Linked DNA regions of Homo sapiens: region 1 is linked to region 2. Evidence: fine-mapped expression QTL. A gene starts in region 2. The other region holds a variant in brackets. All regions are shown on one strand. Distances are from middle to middle. Region 1 has its middle 23 kb from the start of MMD2. Region 2 holds the start of RBAK (RB associated KRAB zinc finger).

Evidence for each region.
Region 1: its variant is fine-mapped to the expression of RBAK in monocytes after LPS (Quach 2016, PIP 0.95).

The regions. Positions count from the first base shown.
Region 1 is chr7:4,978,433-4,986,765 of GRCh38, reverse strand. It overlaps the pseudogene RNF216P1. Among named protein-coding and RNA genes, the nearest start is that of MMD2, 23 kb to the right of the region's middle. The variant G/C (reference allele first, on the strand shown) is at 3,812.
Region 2 is chr7:5,041,746-5,050,078 of GRCh38, reverse strand. RBAK (RB associated KRAB zinc finger) reads right to left here and starts at 4,219. Exons shown (of 5, transcript NM_021163.4): 1 at 3,683-4,219; 2 at 1,988-2,046. The coding sequence starts at 2,002. It overlaps RBAK-RBAKDN (RBAK-RBAKDN readthrough), which reads right to left and starts at 4,219. Exons shown (of 6, transcript NM_001204513.3): 1 at 4,121-4,219; 2 at 1,988-2,046. The coding sequence starts at 2,002. RefSeq lists an enhancer at 3,610-3,719 and a silencer at 3,870-4,079.

The sequences.
Region 1 (8,333 bases), 63 kb after region 2:
CCTGTTTCTAAACAAGAATAACCATGATGATGATGATGATGATAATACGGACGCTCCAGTCTCTCAACTTCCTCCTTCCTGTCTGCCTGCCTCCTCCGCTTGGTCTTTACATGTCAGGAGTCCTCTCTTCTCACCTGGTATCTCTGGGTACCTCATCCTGGCTGGTGAGATTTTCCATATGCTGATGACTCTCAAAGTCCTATCACCATAAAACCCAAGGAGATTTAAAAAAAAAATCCTATCTACAGTCTGTATTTTCCAAACTTTCTAGTCCATTCAACCTCCCAATGAATTATTTTTACTCAGATGTCTCACAGGCCCTTCTCAGCACATTGGCAACCAACGTTTCCCAGACTGATTTCATGATTATTTCTCTCCAAAGCAGATGTTTATACTAGTTCTCACCCCAATAAATGATACTAACATCTTCCACGACCCCTTTCACCAAACTCCTATGTGGGTCTGTGATTAAATGTCCCTTGCTCAGGGAGGCCCTTGTGGAGACCCTTGGTCTACCTTAGGTTGCCTCCTGTTTTACCCTTTCAAAGCCTATTTTTCTTTCAGTCTTTTTTTGGCCGGGTGCAGTGGCTCACGAGGTTATCCCAGCACTTTGGGACGCTGAGGCAGGCAGATCATCTGAGGTCAGGAGTTGCTGACCAGCCTGGCCAACATGGTGAAACCCCATCTTTACTAAAAATACAAAAATCAGCCAGGCGTGGTGGTGAGCATCTATAGTCCCAGCTACTCAGGAGGCTGAGGCAGGAGAATCGCTTGAACTGGGGAGGCAGAGGCTGCAGTGAGCTGAGATCACGCCATTGCACTCCAGCCTGGGCGACAGAGCGAGACTCCATTTCAAAAAAAAAAAAAAAAAAGGTGGAAGGGGCTTGGCCTAGACCTCAGCATAAGCCACAGTCCTTGGCTTGGTTCTTCCCTTCCTACAGGTAAGACCCAATGAGTATTTTAACCACTACGATAACTCCACGTTTGTCCTTTGGACAAAAGAAACATCACTGTGTTGCTGAGAATCACAAGAATTTCAGTAGAATAGAATTTAATGGCAGTAAGAGCGACCAAGAGGAGTAAGCCAAGGTCTCTGCTGGTGCGTGCGCTCCTGTTCTGGCCACAGCTACAAAGCATGCACCGTGTGCTGTCCTTCATGGAAGACGCCTGTGTTACCCACCACAAACCAGCACCCTCCTCACCCTCAACCAAGGCCTTTAAGTGCCATCTATTTTAGGATCCTGGGGGGAGAACGCTGGGAGCTGTCAGTAGCTGCCCATTCTCTTCTGAGGGGGCACTGCTGTGTTCCCGGACTCTCTACAGACCTTACGTCCTATCACTGATAACTGAGCCACCTGGGGGATGGATGGTTGTGTGACCTGTCCCAAGTCGGAAAGCAAATCAGGAAGGAGCAGGATTAGAACGCATCTCTCATACTCCTGCATTCCACAGTAGAATGTATTACCCTCCATGTTTTTACGGTCAAAGCAGAACTTCTCTACTTCTCATCTATCTATTATTTCTTTTCATTTAGCCCTTCACGATCAGCAAATACCCATCTATTTATCTTCACCCTCATAAATTCCTTAGCAATCATAAACCATCCCAATTTCCACAAGCTGTTCATTCTGTTACCGTGTGAAGATGTAGTCAAGAGGTGTGACCCCAACAGGAAGACCAAGTAGAGTACCTTTCGGGTGATTGCATAGTGTCCTTTGAGCTCGTGCAGGGCCCACATGATGTCCTGACTACTGAGCACTTTGAAGTCGGCCATGAGGAGGTCAGCAGCTTGGATGAAGCAGTGCTGGTCAAGAGGAGTCAATTTAGAATAGTCAAAAAAGTCTTATTTTAGGCAACTGAAACGAGACAGAAGCATAAAATCAAAGGCCAGGCAGTACATTTCCCATGTAGGGGAAATCATTTTAAGAATTTATGTGCAGAAAAGAATAACATTTGTTCTAATTACTCTATAAGGAAGTTACCAGCCCTATAAGAGAGATGAGAAAATGGTGGCTCAGAGAGGTTAAACAAACCTGTCTGGAGCCGGCAGACTAGTTTTACTAGTTATAACTAGTAAAGAAGTATAGTTGGGGATTTAAACCAATCTTACAGCCATCTTCTTTCCATACCATATTTACAAACAACTATTTTTTTTCTATTATAGAATACGTAAGAGAGATAGTCAAAGAATCTATGGGGAGTTGGAAGATCAAGCAACACATCTTAATAAAGTTAGTTCTCAACCATACTTTACCATGTAACAAACTAAATGCCAGTTTAGATCACAAATAATGACAATGATTAAAGTTTTTAAAAACCAAACTGTTTACATCTTGATATGAGATCTGGTTAAACAGATGTATAGGATACGCTGTATACAAATCTCACATCAAAAGAAAAAAGATATTCCACTCTGGGTAATGATCTGCATGCTGAAGTACTTACAGGGAAGTGTACTGATGTTTTTGCAATTTACTTTGAAATGCATTATCATGAAATGAAACATAACAAAGATGTGCTGATGGACAGACAGAGGACATATGTATGATAAAGAGGATACAGTAAACTGTTAACTTTTTAGTAGTACCAGTGGTAGGTATACAGGTGATCAACGTAAAATATTTCAATTTTTCTGTAGGTTTGAAAATTTTCATAATAAAATGTTAAGAGTTTTGGCCAATTCTTGTTTTGCTTTAGGAATTTGCTTTGTAGGATTACAGATATGGAGGATTCGTTCAATTCTTTGTGGGAAAAGGAAGATAAGAATTACAAGGAAAGATAGAAGTTAAAGACAGAATTCAAAGTGGCTCAGACTGGGAGATCGCACTGAAGTATAGATATATTCTGAAATCCTATGTCCCTCGGCTAGTCTTTAAAAACTTGTCCCAACAAAGCACCTTCTTCCCACAGAGATAACAACAACAACAACAACAACAACAACAAAGCACAGCATTTCCAGGCAGTGACTGCAAAACATGAACATGACACTTGCCTTTGTCTCATCTTGGCTGGCCAGCAGACTGCTACTGGGATTTATAATGATTCTGTCTTCTCTCTTTGGATAATCTGGGTTTTCCAGAAGAAAATTACAAAGTCTGCAGAAACAAATGATGTTACTTTCATACTGCTTCCAAATCCCACACCTGCCCATTGCTTCAAATGCAATGTCTGAAGAATATAGTCCTTAGTCACACGTTACAACTGGCCTATCAAGAAATTAAGATGTTTGTAGCCCAGAAAAACTAAACAAATAAACAAACAACTGCACTGAATTTCTATCTTTGTGAAAGATAAAAAATTTAAAAAGCAATGAACATACTGATTAAGGCAAACTCCTCTGAAGTTTATGTATCAATTGGGTGTTAATGTATTGAAGTCACTGAAACTATTATTGGTTAAACTACAAAATTGGAAAATTTGAAAGAAAAGTAGCTACTCTTTGTCAAGAAAACTATGAACAAGAAAGAAGTGGAAAACTGTGTGTTCACATTTACAGTAAAAACAGTCTGCTAAGAGATGTAATAAATAAATGAAATATAAAAGACCTTCTGTTAATTCATTAATACTTTTTATACCCCTGTGGTAACATAAATCTCTATGGTAATATAAAGCTCTATGAGCCATTGAGTTACACTTCATTTATTTAGCTAGCTGCTAAGCTAGACTGATGAACAGATCATGTTTTCCTATGAACAGACTCTCTTCACACCAAACCCACTAGCTTTGTCTATTATCAGCATGAAATACTTCCAAAGTAAGGCTATATAGAGTGAGATAACACACACTGATGTATCACCACCCAGACCCAACA[G/C]ATGTTAACTATCCAGGCTCTTCACAGTCAAATCAGACAACCACCTTGGAACGACTGCACAGTAGTGCAGACAGAGTGGGTGGGGTACAGCTCTAGCCACATTCAGTAGCAAGGAAGCTTCTTTGCTCGGAGGGTAATGGGGACTTCCCCTTTTCTCTGTTCTTTCTCTTGCTCCAGTAGATTTCTAAGATGACCTCCTAGGTGCTATACCTGCAGTTCTCACACACTTCCCTTTCTACTGGTTCTCTTTTGCCAGATGTCAATAGTAAGGCCTGTAATAGTAGAACAGGAGGTCTGGCAGAAAGAGGGCAGAGAAAAAGTGCTCAGCTCTGCTCCTTTTCTCATCCAGGTGCCAGTGTTTGGGGACCGGTTTGGAGAGGTTCGTTGATTCTACAGCCCCCGCTGGGGACCCATGTCAAAGCCTTCTCCCTCATCTTGACATCTCAATGCATTTCCCTTTGCCGTTACTTCAGGAGTCCCACATACTCTTCATCTCTAAGCTCCCCCCTTCCCTACCACCACAGCCTGCCCAGTCCACAGAAGACAACGCCAGAGGCCCAAAGAGAGGAAAAAAAGCAGCAAACTCCTCCTATTACAGAGGGCGACAAGAATTCAGAGTACATTTTCCTTTAAAACCATTGTCATCAGTGGTAATTCTCCGTCCTAGAATTCACTGGTGTGCAATGAGGTTATGCAAACCTTTGAAGGCTGACCTGAGAATTAGCCACCAGCAAAAATCGCGTCTGTAGGGAAAGGCCTGAGTTCCAGACAACTCATTACATGTGCATATTTGATGTGGCGACAAACCAGACACGGACTAGCTTTAAAATGGTCTGTTTTTATGTGTTTTCTCAAGTAAATGATACATAAGTACACCTCTACATGAAATACAGATGGAACAGTAGATATGATTTCTTGAAAAAACAAAACATGTTTGAGAGGTTCATCTCTCCCCAATTCATTTTATATTTGCAACAATATTAAGAACTTCAAATACTGAAATGCTACAGACATGAAGTTCCACATGGCAGAAATCAGAAGCTCTCACTATAAACTGTCAAAATTCATTTCTAGTTTAATCCCTTCATTATGCTTACCAACAGAACTCTTCTGGAGGTTAAGTGACATTTGGAGGCACAGGAAATGAAGGACAAAGTTTTTCTTCTACAGAAACAAGTGGTAGCCTCTGTTCTAATATCTGCACCCTGGGGCAAAAGCAGTGGGGAAGCCTGTCGGACTTCAGTCTGCCCACGTCTTCATATGACCTCATGCTTGAGCTGATCTGACATGCTAGCAGTTCTAGAGAAGGCACTCCTGCAAAGTAAGCCAGGCTAGTACTCCAGTTTTTTTTTTTTTTTTTTTGAGACTGAGTCTCGCTCTGTTGCCCAGGCTGGAGTGCAGCGGTACAAGCTCCACCTCCTGCAAGCTACAAGCTCCACTTCCTGGGTTCATGCCATTCTCCCGCCTCAGCCTCCCGAGTAGCAGGCACTACAGGCACCCGCCACCACGCCCGGCTAATTTTGTTCTATTTTTAGTAGAGACGGGGTTTCACCGTGTCAACCAGGATGGTCTTGATCTCCTGACCTTGTGATCCACCCGTCTCGGCCTCCCAAAGTGCAGGGATTACAGGCGTGAGCCACCGCGCCCAGCCGTACTCCAATCTTTCAACCCTTAGATAGTTGTTGCTGCCTTCATCCAACTGAAGTTGACCACGTGTGAGTGAAAGATCTAAGTTAACCAGCCAGAGTAGATTACCTGCCACGTGGTTCTCTAATGAATAGGCCCTTCCTGCTTAAAATGGCCAGATGGTTCCATCTGAAGGCCATTTAAAGACGCACATAAAGCAACTGAGACTGAGCTACAACAAAATCCCAGTCTGCTCAACTCAGCTTTGGGCCTTATTTCCAGTTTCCATTAACATTTTAGTTTAGTTGTGGAGTTAACACTGTCCTAGGAGTCCAGAGAATAATGGAAAGGAAAGCAGTGTCAGGAAAACAAGATTGGCTTGAAAAGATGGAATACAGTGACCGTACATTCCCTTGCTTTTTAGATTTCATGAGAATTTTTATGTGTTTAAAGATCAATGTTTCTGAGTGACACAAAAAGCACAGAGGGACAGCAAGACCCTAAAAATAATTACACGTGTGAGACTCAGGAAGTAGGAGAACAGAACTGTAAGAGAAGGTGTCAATTTGATTACATTTTAGTGATTTTTCTAGACAATCTTGAAGATATATTTAAACATCCCTCTTCATTTGCAGAAGGAGACAAAAACATTGAATATACTCAATTTCTATGAGGTTAAATTGTTAAAAAATACTAAAACATGGTATCTGGTATTCAAATCATTGTTCTATAAATGAGCTAAGTTTATACTTTTCTCTATCATTTACATTTTCTGTAATGAACAAACCTGTATTACATTTCATAACCAGGAAACATTAGGAATTCAAAGAGAAGAGAGAAGTAAACAATTCACACGCAAGGGAAATACAATTAGTAAACAAATATTTGAAAAACACAGCCAATTAGCAAAGAAATGTCACTTATGCTACTTCATGCCTACCCTAGTTAACTACAAAAAATAACATAACTCAGTATTGTCGAAGAGTTGTTAAAGCAATTCACACATATAAGTTGCTTTTTAGATGAGTAGAAGCCTACAAGAAAGTTTTCATTGTAAAAATGTAGTCATTGCTGCTCAATTTTCCTGTAAACCTAAAACTGCTCTAAAAAATAAAGCTTAGTAATTTAAAAAAATGTAGTTATTATCACACCACTTGGAAACCCAAAAAGAAAGTATTTTAAAAGCTTAGGAGGGGAAAAAAATCTCCAACAAACAATTCTGTTGAAGACACAAACATAGCCAATAGGAAGGTGGATGCCAGGGTGTGGGGCAAGTAGAGTTCAGGAGACAAGCAGGAGAATGTTCACAGCTACATTATTTGTGACAGTCAGAACTCAAATGCCTATCAAAAGTAGATGGGAAATTTCATTGCTAAGTGATATAAATGGAATACCACTTAGCAATGGAAAATACATAAACTGTGGCTCTACCCAACGTGAATAAACCTCACAAACATAATGCTGAGTGAAAAGAAGTCAGATGCAAAAGAAGACTATACAAAATCTTTATGTAGTGTTTAAAGAGGATAGCAACATTCTATTTCTTGAAGATTTCTGGGTTGTGGTTCCATAAATGTTTGGTTTGTGATAAATTATTGAGCTGTGCATCTTTATTTTGTTCATTTTTCTTTATGTATATTATATACACATTGGTATACAATAACCAAGTTTAAAAACTATACACAATAAAGAATATGTGGAAAGGCTTCAGAAGAGTGAGTAACTGGCATGTAAATAACCAAATGGCTTTCTTTCCTCACTGTAAGGAAGGTTAAATACCCAGGTAGAGTCTCTTGTTGAAAAATAAAAAATGCTTTAAGAGTTTGGGTAATCCAAGCCGGGTGAGGTAACACATGCCTGTAATCCCAGCTATTCGGGAGACTGAGGCAGGAGAATCACCTGAACCTGGGAGGCGAAGGTTGCAGTGAGCTGAGATCATGCCACTGCACTCCAGCTTGGGCAACAAGGGCAAAACTCTCTCTCAAAATAAATAAATAAATAAATAAATAAATAAATAAATAAATAAATAAATAAATAAAAGGTTTGCAGGGCACGGTGGCTCACGTCTCCCAGCACTTTGGGAGGCTGAGGCAGGGGGGTAACTTGAAGTCAGGAGTTCGAGACCAGCCTGGCCAACATGGTGAAATCCCATCTCTACTAAAAATACAAAAATTAGCTGGGCATGTTGGTGCACACCTGTAATCCAAGCTACTCAGGAAGCTGAGGCAGAAGAATCACTTGAACCCTGGAGACGGAGGCTGCAGTGAGCCAGGATCACGCCACTGCACTCCAGCCTGGGCAAGAGACTGAGACTTCGTCTTAAAAAAAAAAAAAAAGAGTTTGTGTAATCCGAAAACTTCAAGACAGGAATCTAAAGTCGTTTCAAACTGACACTGCCCTCGGGGACTTGAAAGAAGCAAAAGCAATTCTCTATAAAGAAACCAACTCTATCAAGAACTCAAGACATGAGCTTAGAGTCAAACTTAGAAAATACACAAGAAAACGAGGCACCATGGGAGCCAGCAGGAAAAACAGAATATGATTCCCAAGAACTTAACAGATCACAGCAATCAAACTCACAAAGAAGCTATGTTTATTGGTTAAAGAAATTTAAAAAAGACTAAAAATATAGGCAAAGAGCAAAACTCTAGGAAAATAACCAAGAGAATTAAAAGCTAAAATACCATAACCGAAAAACAGTGGATGAGTTAAAAGAAGATTACATTCTACTGAAGAGAAATTTGTGGGCTAGAAGACACATCTGAAGAAATCATCCAGAATGCATCTCAGAGACAAAGAGGTGGACTTAGAGACTTGGAGACTGTGGGAGAAGAGTTACAGAAGACAGGAAACAGCTACAAAATTTCCAGAACTGACCAACATCACCAATCTATGG
Region 2 (8,333 bases):
GATTGCTTGAGGTCAGGAGTTTGAGACCAGTCTGAGCAATACAGTGGGAATACATCTCTAGGCTGGGAGCAGTGGCTCACGCCTGTAATCCTAGCATTTTGGGAGGCCGAGGCGGGCAGACTGCCTGAGCTCAGGAGTTCAAGACCAGCCTGGGTGACATGGTGAAACCCAGTCTCTACTAAAATATAAAAAAATTAGTCGGGTGTGGCAGCTTGCGCCTGTAGCTATGCAGGAGGCTGAGGCAGGAGGATCGTGTGAGCCCAGGAGACTGAGGTTGCAGTGAGTTGTGATCACGTCTCTACACTCCAGCCTGGGTGACACAGCAAGACCCTATCTCAAAAAAAGAAAAAAAGAAACAGAACAAAACAAAACAAAACAGACTTCATCATTTAAAGACAAGCAGAAATACTTACAGACGAATCTTTTTAAAAGCCAAGAAAAGAGAGACTCCATGGAGAAAGTATCAGTTTGGAAGTAACAGATGTCAAAGGCAGACAAAGGGTCCTGGGAGGTAGGGGCTAGGAAATCCCCTCTGGATTTGACTGCAATGAAATCACTGGTAATCTTTACAGACTGACTCAGCAACGTGAAAAGGACAAAACTAAAACACTGAGAACTGAAATGAGAAACAGAAATGAGGAAATCTTCACAAGAGAGTAACTGTATTGTTTGCTGTGCAACCCAAACTGAAAGACGAACAAATATTTGAAGGATGATCATGTCATTCATTCCCCCCATGATCTAGGACTCAACAGTAAAAACAGAATTCTGTCTACTGGGATCACAATGTTTCCTTCCCTGGAAAAATTATATGCACCAAGTTCTCCTTGGGCAGCAGGCAGGCCCTCTGCTTACATAAGCACCAAGAATAAGCCATAAGTTATGGTAACTTAATGGTTGTTATTAGGAAAGCTATCCGCAATTATATCAACTTGAATGAAGAAATTTTTCCAAGTCCTAGAAAATCTTTTAAATCCACAAGTAACAAAGTTGGTTTCTCCTTATAATGAATGCAAATGATGTCATGGATGGTGATATGGTTTCGCTTTGTGTCGCCAACCAAATCTCATGTTCAATTGTAATCCCCAATGTTGGAGGTGGGGCCTGGTGGGAGGTGATTGGATCATGGGGGCAATTTCCCTTTTGGTGCTGTTCTCCTGACACTCAGTGACTTATCACAAGACGTGGTTGTTTAAAAGTGTGTAGCGCCTCCCCCTCCCTCTTCCTCCTGCTCTGGTGATGGAAGATGTACCCGCTTTCCCTTTGCCTTCCACCATGACTGTAAGTTTCCTGAAGCCTCCCCAGCCATGCTTCCTATGATAGAGCCTGCAGGCGTGAGCCAATTAAACCTCTTTTCTTTATAAATGACCCAGTCTTGGTTATTTCTCTATAGCAGTGTGAGAATGGACTAATACAGATGGCATTTTCCTTTTGTGATGACTGCCAAGAATATCAGTCCTGGGTGCGGCTCAATTTCAACAGCCTTAAAATCTACTATCCACACATACAAGCTTCACAAATCATTTTTGGTGCTGATCTGCCACACTAACTATATTTTACAGGACAATGTCTATTTCCACATTCCCATTTTAAAGTATGAATCCTGGCTGGGCGCGGTGGCTCATGCCTGTAATCCCAGCACTTTGGGAGGCTGAGGCAGGAGGATCACCTGAGGTCAGGAGTTTGAGACCAGCCTGGCCAACATGGTGAAACCCTGTCTCTTCTAAAAATACAAAAAATTAGTTGGGCATGGTGGCGCACGCCTGTAATCCCAGCTACTCGGGAGGCTGAGGCAGGAGAATCGCTTGAACCCAGGAGGTGGAGGTTGCAGTGAAGCGAGATCATGCCACTGCACTCCAGCCTGGGCAACAGAGCAAGACTCCATCTCAAAAAAAAAGAAAAAAAAAAAGGTAAGAATCCTTACAAACCTCTTAAAATGCATCATAAAATAAAGTTGAGGAACATATACACAAGCATGAAAACTCACCTGCAATGTGTTCATTTTCTGCTGCTCTTGGAAACGTGCAGAGACTGTGGCTGGTAGACCTAGAGGGGGAGAAGCAGGTCACTGAAGTCATGAGTGCTCTGGCCTGCAAAGGCAGGAATCTCCTGCGTAAGAACCACAAAAGAAAGCTCAATAGGCTAACACCCTGTGAACACTCAGCCTGCAAACACTCAGAAGGGCCTAAAAGAGTGATACAGGGTTTCGCCATGTTGGCCAGGCTGGTCTCGAATTCTGGCCTCAAGTGATCCGCCTTCCTTGGCCAATATGGCGAAACCCCATCTCTACTTAAAAATAACAAAAAAATTAGCCAGGCATAGTGTCACATGCCTGTAGTCCCAGCTACTCAGGAGGCTGAGGCACAAGAATCCTTTGAACCTGGGAGGTGGAGGTTGCAGTGAGCCGAGACCACACTGCTGCACTCCAGACTGGGTGAGAGACACTGTCTCAAAAAAAAAAAAAAAAAAAAAAAAAAGAGAGTGAAAAAGAGTGATAGGCGAAGCATGCACTTGTAACTTTGTAACTCTAAGATAATCAGGTAGTAATCAGATGAGTGAGACTCTCATGGGTAACATGACTCCTTTTACAAATAGTCTGCCATCATCAAATACAACCTGCAAAAAGAAAAAAAAAATTCCCATTATACAGCTCATGTTTTTTGTGGTTTGTCTGTTTGTTGAGACAGGGTCTCAATCTGCCACCCAGGCTGGAGTGCAGTGGTGCATTCACAGCTCACTGCAGCCTCGACCTCCTGGCCTCCATTGATCCTCCCACCTCAGCCTCCTGAGTAGCTGGGACCACAGGTGCATCCCAGCATGCCTGGCTACTTTTGTATTTTTTGTAGAGTCAGGGTCTCCCTATGTTGCCTAGGCTGGTCTCTAACTCCTGGTCTCAAGGGATACTCTTGCCTTAGCCCCCGCAAAGTGCTGGGATTACAGGTGTGAGCCACTGCATCCGGCCCGCATTTTCTTATTGTCTCTTTAAACTGCTTAAAATCAAAGAAGCCATAGGAATTGAGTATGTGAGCTCTCAGAAATGAAATGAATGTGTATAAAATATGGTTTTGTTTCTAAATTATCTAACTGAACTTGGTTATTGCTGCACCTAATAATCTTCTATTAAGAAAACTAGGATACGGGAGAAAGAACACTGGCCTGGGAGATAAGACTCCTGAGTTCTACTATGAGCAACTCTACCCACAAAGCCAGTGACCCGGTCAAGTCACCCACCTGCTAAGGCCCAGTCTCTTCCCCTAGCAACTGAGGCAGCAAGAGAGAATCCCTGCAGACTGTTCCTGCATTACTACCAGTCTCCAGGGCAGATCTAAGGGGGGAATCAGCAGACACTTAAATGAGAGAACAGAGGCGCTGACGGACGTTTAGAGGAGGTCGAAATCTGGAGCACGGAAAGGAGGAGGAAGGGCTGTTAGGGGTTAGCGGGGAGTGGAGACGACGTCCGCAGCTGAGGCTGGTGACACCCTCCAGGCCCCCATAAGCCTCGTCCTCCCAGATTTCCCATGCAGCGCCTGTTCGGTGCAGCCGGACCCTGCCCTCAAACCCAAACACACGTCTCTCCTGCAAGCGATCGAGACCCTCCCCCTGCCCCACACTCTAAGGTCCCCAACACACGGTGACTTCACTCAGGCCCTTCTCGCTCCGGGCCCGAAAACCCAAGACCTACCCTTCTGGGGCTCCGCAGCCTCTGCCCCACGGCTCCCGAGAGGCCGGGGCGGGGCTGCTGTCGCTGGCGCGCGTCTGCTCGCGAGGTCCCCTCCTGTCCACCTCACTAAGGTTGTTCTGCTCCCGAGGGGCCCGGGCCGGGCCTAAGGGGCAAATCCAGGCGGGTGTCCTTCCCGGGACCCAGATCCGCCTCCCTCGGGCTCACCGTACAGCGGCAGCCTGGGCCAGGCCGCCAGGACACACACGGGCCAGGCCCGCGTCCCGCCGCCCCTTCGCCTCCGCCGCCACCTCCGCCACCTCCCGTCCGGCCCCTCTGGCCCCAGCGCCGCCGGCTCCGGGGCTCAAGCTCGGGGGTCCCCGCTCAAGCCTCCACCCGGCCCGCGCGAACCCTGGCCTGCACACCCCCGCGCCCGCCTAGGTGCTGGCCCGGGCGCTCAACCTCCAGCCCCGCAGGCTCCGCGATTCTCGTCCACTGGAGGCCAAAGCCTGGGAACTAGAGCAAGCGGTGACCTGAGGACGCACAGGAAGCGAGGGCAGTGCAGCGGCGGCGCGCATGCGCGAACACGCACACAGAGAGAGGTGCACACGCGCAGGAGTGCACCGGAAGTCAGCCTCCGGGGCCCACAGCTGGTCCCAGGACAAGCACCCTACTCTATTTCCCATGAGCCTACGCGCCCCCCAAGTTTAGGGGCCGTTTTAAATGTCTCTACCCTGCCTAAAGGTTAAGAAGCTCCAGGCTATGAGCTTTGGGAGCTCTGAACCCCTGATTGAACTTCGCATTTGTCTTTACTCCCTTTTAGGGTCAAGTCCAGGGCTGCCTGACTGGGTCCTGGAGCCCAAGGCCTCTGGGTTAGAACCGAGTTTCCCATAAAGAGAAGGAAAGGAAAGGGTGTATCGTGGTCACTGCGCTGAAATGCTAAGAGAAGTTTCACTCAAATACTAGGACAGGATAAATGCCCAGCGATGCTTTCCAAGGAAGAGAAAGAAAATAGAATTTGTGGCTGGGCGCGGTGGCTCACGCCTATAAATCCCAGCACTTTGGGAGGCCGAGGCGGGCGGATCGCGAGGTCAAGAGATAGAGACCATCCTGGCCAACATGGTGAAATCCCTTCTCTACCAAAAATACAAAAATTAGCTGGGAGTAGTGGCGTGTGCCTGTAATCCCAGCTACTCGGGGGCTGAGGCAGGAGAATAGTTTGAACTCGGGAGGTGGAGGTTGCAGTGAGCCGAGATCGCGCCCCTGGACTCCAGCCTGGCGACGGAGCGAGACTCTGTAGCTTTTCTAGATCACACAGCGAATGCCTAAAAACTGTAGAGAAATCAGGAAATACACAGATCGAACGAAGAAAAGAGATACCTGTGATCTCACCTTCCCCAGGAGGATTATGTTTAGGGTTAGGTTATGTTGACCAAAAAGACTCAAAGTCTGTCAAGAGTTTTATTCTGGGCCTCCTACTTGAGTGACCATGGCTGGTGACACAGCCTCAGGGGGTCCTGAGAACGTGAGCCCAAAGTGGTTGGGTTACAGCTTGGTTTTATACATCTTAGGGAGACAGCAGTTACAGGCAAAGACATAAATCAATACATGAGAGGTACACATTGGGTCAGCCTGGAAAGGCTTTCAGGTCACTAGCAGATTCAAAGATTGGCAGTTGGTTCAGAGTTAAGCGTTGGCTGAACAGTTGGAAAACGACATGAAGAAATGGGCCATTGCGGTGGCTCATGCCTGTGATCCCAGCATTTTGGGAGGGTGAGCTGGGAGGATCCCTTGAGGCCAGGAGTTGAAGGACAGCCTGGGCAACACAGCGAGACCCCCACCTCTACAAAAAAAAAAATTATCCAGGTGTGGTGGTGCATGCCTGTAGTCCCAGCTACTCAGGAGGCTGAGATGGGAGGATTGCTTGAGCCTGGGAAGTTGAGGCTACAGTGAGCCATGATGGTGCCACTGCACTCCAGCTTGGGCAACAGAGAAGAAAAGAAAGAGAGAAAGAGAGGGAGGAAAAGAGAGAGAGGAAGGAGGGAAGGAAGGAAAAGAAAGAGGGAGGGAAAGAAAAGAAAAGCTTGAGTTAAGATAAGGGGCATTGTGGAAACCAAGGTTCTTGTTATGTAGATGAAGCCTCAGAACAGGCTTCAGAGAGAATAGATGATAAATATCTCTTATTGGATCTTAAAAGGTGTCAGAATCTCCAGAAAAGACTTCTTTTCTGTAAGGGAAGGAGATTCTCTACAGAATGCAAATTTCCCCCAAAGAGATGGCTTTGCAGGACTATTTTAAAGTGTGTCAAAGAAAATATATTATGGGATAAAATACTATGATTTCCTTCAGGGACTGCTATCTGTCATGTGATGCTATATCAGAGTCTGGATGGAGTTGGGTATCTTACTGATACAAAGAGCCTGTTCTGTCAGTCTTATGATCTGTATTCTAGTGTTAATGTTGGTCAGCTGTGCCTAAACTCTGAAGGGAGGAGAGTATGACAAGGCATGTCCGACCCCCTCCTTCCCATCATGACCTGAATTAGTTTTTCATGTTTATTTTGGATCTTGCTGGCCGACAGGGGAGTCCATTCAGTCAGTTGTGGGGGCTTAGAATTTTATTTTTGCTTTACAATTAAAATGTCAGTTTTCAAAAATGGGATCATAAGGACAATGATTCATCACAATTTTTTGGTGAACTCTAACAGTGTTCTTAGTGTTCTTGCCCAGTTGTTTCATAAAAACTGGTAAGGAAAAGACTAAAAATAAATTCTTCTGATGCCAGGAACCGTGGCTCATGCCTGTAATCCCAGCACTTTGGGAGGCTGAGGCAGGTGGATCATGAGGTCAGGAGACCAAGACCATCCTGGCCAACATGGTGAAACCCTGTCTCGACTAAAACACAAAAAATTAGCTGGGTGTGGTGGTGCGCGCCTGTAGTCCCAGCTACTTGGGAGGCTGAGGCAGGGCAATCACTTGAACTGGGAGGCGGAGATTGCAGTGAGCCGAGATCACGCCACTACACTGCAGCCTGGCGACAGAGCAAGACTCCACCTCTAAATAAATAAATAGATAAATAAATAAATTCTTCTGTTAACCTAGAATATTCTCTCCACAAATTCAGAAAATAAAGAAAACAATTTTATTATTGAATAAACATTAAACCAAACTGTGATGCCCATCGCAGGTGATCCATTAATGAGATGCAAAGAGAAATAAAGCCTCCTTTTTTTTTTTTTTGAGACAGAGTCTTGCTGTGTCACCCAGGCTGGAGTGCAGTGGTATGATCTCGGCTCACTGCAACCTCTGCCTCCCCAGTTTAAGCGATTCTGCTGCCTCAGCCTCCCAAGTAACTGGGACTACAGGCACATGCCACCACGCCTGGCTAATTTTTTGTATTTTTAGTAGAGACGGGGTTTCGTCATGTTAGCTAGTATGGTCTCAAAATCCTGACCTCTCAATTCGCCCGCCTAGGCCTCCCAAACTGCTGGAATTATAGGCGTGAGCCATGGCGCCCAGCCAAAGCCTCCTTTTTACATAGCCTGGCAGACATGATCCACTGCATACACGCTCTCAAGATAAACGGTAACTCATCCTCATGTAAAAGGACTTGCTATGTTTTTTTTTTTTTTTTGAGACAGGGTCTCATTCTGTCATCCAGGCTGGAGTGTAGTGGTGTGATCTTGGCTCACTGTAACCCCCACCTCCTGGGTTCAAGTGATTCTCATACTTAAGCCTCCCGAGTAGCTGGAATTACAGACATGTGCCATCATGCCCAGCTAATATTTGTATTTTAGTAGAGACAGAGTTTCGCCATATTGGCCAGGCTGGACTCAAACTCCTTCTTTTGATTTCTGTGTGGCTTCAAGTGATCCGCCCATCTCGGCCTCCCCCAGAGTGCTGGGATTACAGGTGTGAGCCACCGCACCTGGCCTGCTATGCATTCTTAAACACTCATCCTAAATTCACCTGGAAATCAAGGTGGCCACCCATGCTAGTTAATTACCTGTATCCGGTGAAAAAACAAAACTTCTCATATCTCCTTGACAAGCAGGTAGTAACAGCTCAAGGTGCCTAGGCTAAACTCCCTAGGCAACAGGAAGATAGGGACACTATCTTCCTCGAGGTTTACATTTCAAAGACAAGACTCTCAGGCTCTTAAGAAAAAAATTCCTGGGTTGTGGCTGGGCGTGGTGGATCAGGCGGGTAATCCCAGCACTTTGGGAGCCTGAGGTGGGTGGATCACCTGAGGTCAGGAGTTCAAGACGAGCCAGACCAACAAGGTGAAACTCCGTCTCTACTAAAAATACAAAAATTAGCCAGGCGTGGTGGCAGGCGCTGTAGTCTCAGCTACTCAGGAGGTTGAGACGGGGGAATTGCTTGAACCCAGGAAGTAGAGGTTGCAGTGAGCCGAGATCACACCACTGCACTCCAGCCTGGGTGAGAGTGAGATTCCGTCTCAAAAAAAAAAAAAAAAAAAAAAATTCCTGGGTTGTAGTGTTGGCAAGAAGTTCATTCACCTTTTTAAAAGATTTAGATACATGTCAAAGGCACAAAAGTTATTTATATTACCACGTTTATCAAGGAAATACTCTTTAAAAAGGAGAGGAGAAAAGGTTAATTTACCTTGTGGCAAATAAGACAAATTTAATCTTTTTTTTTTTAGAAAACCCGTA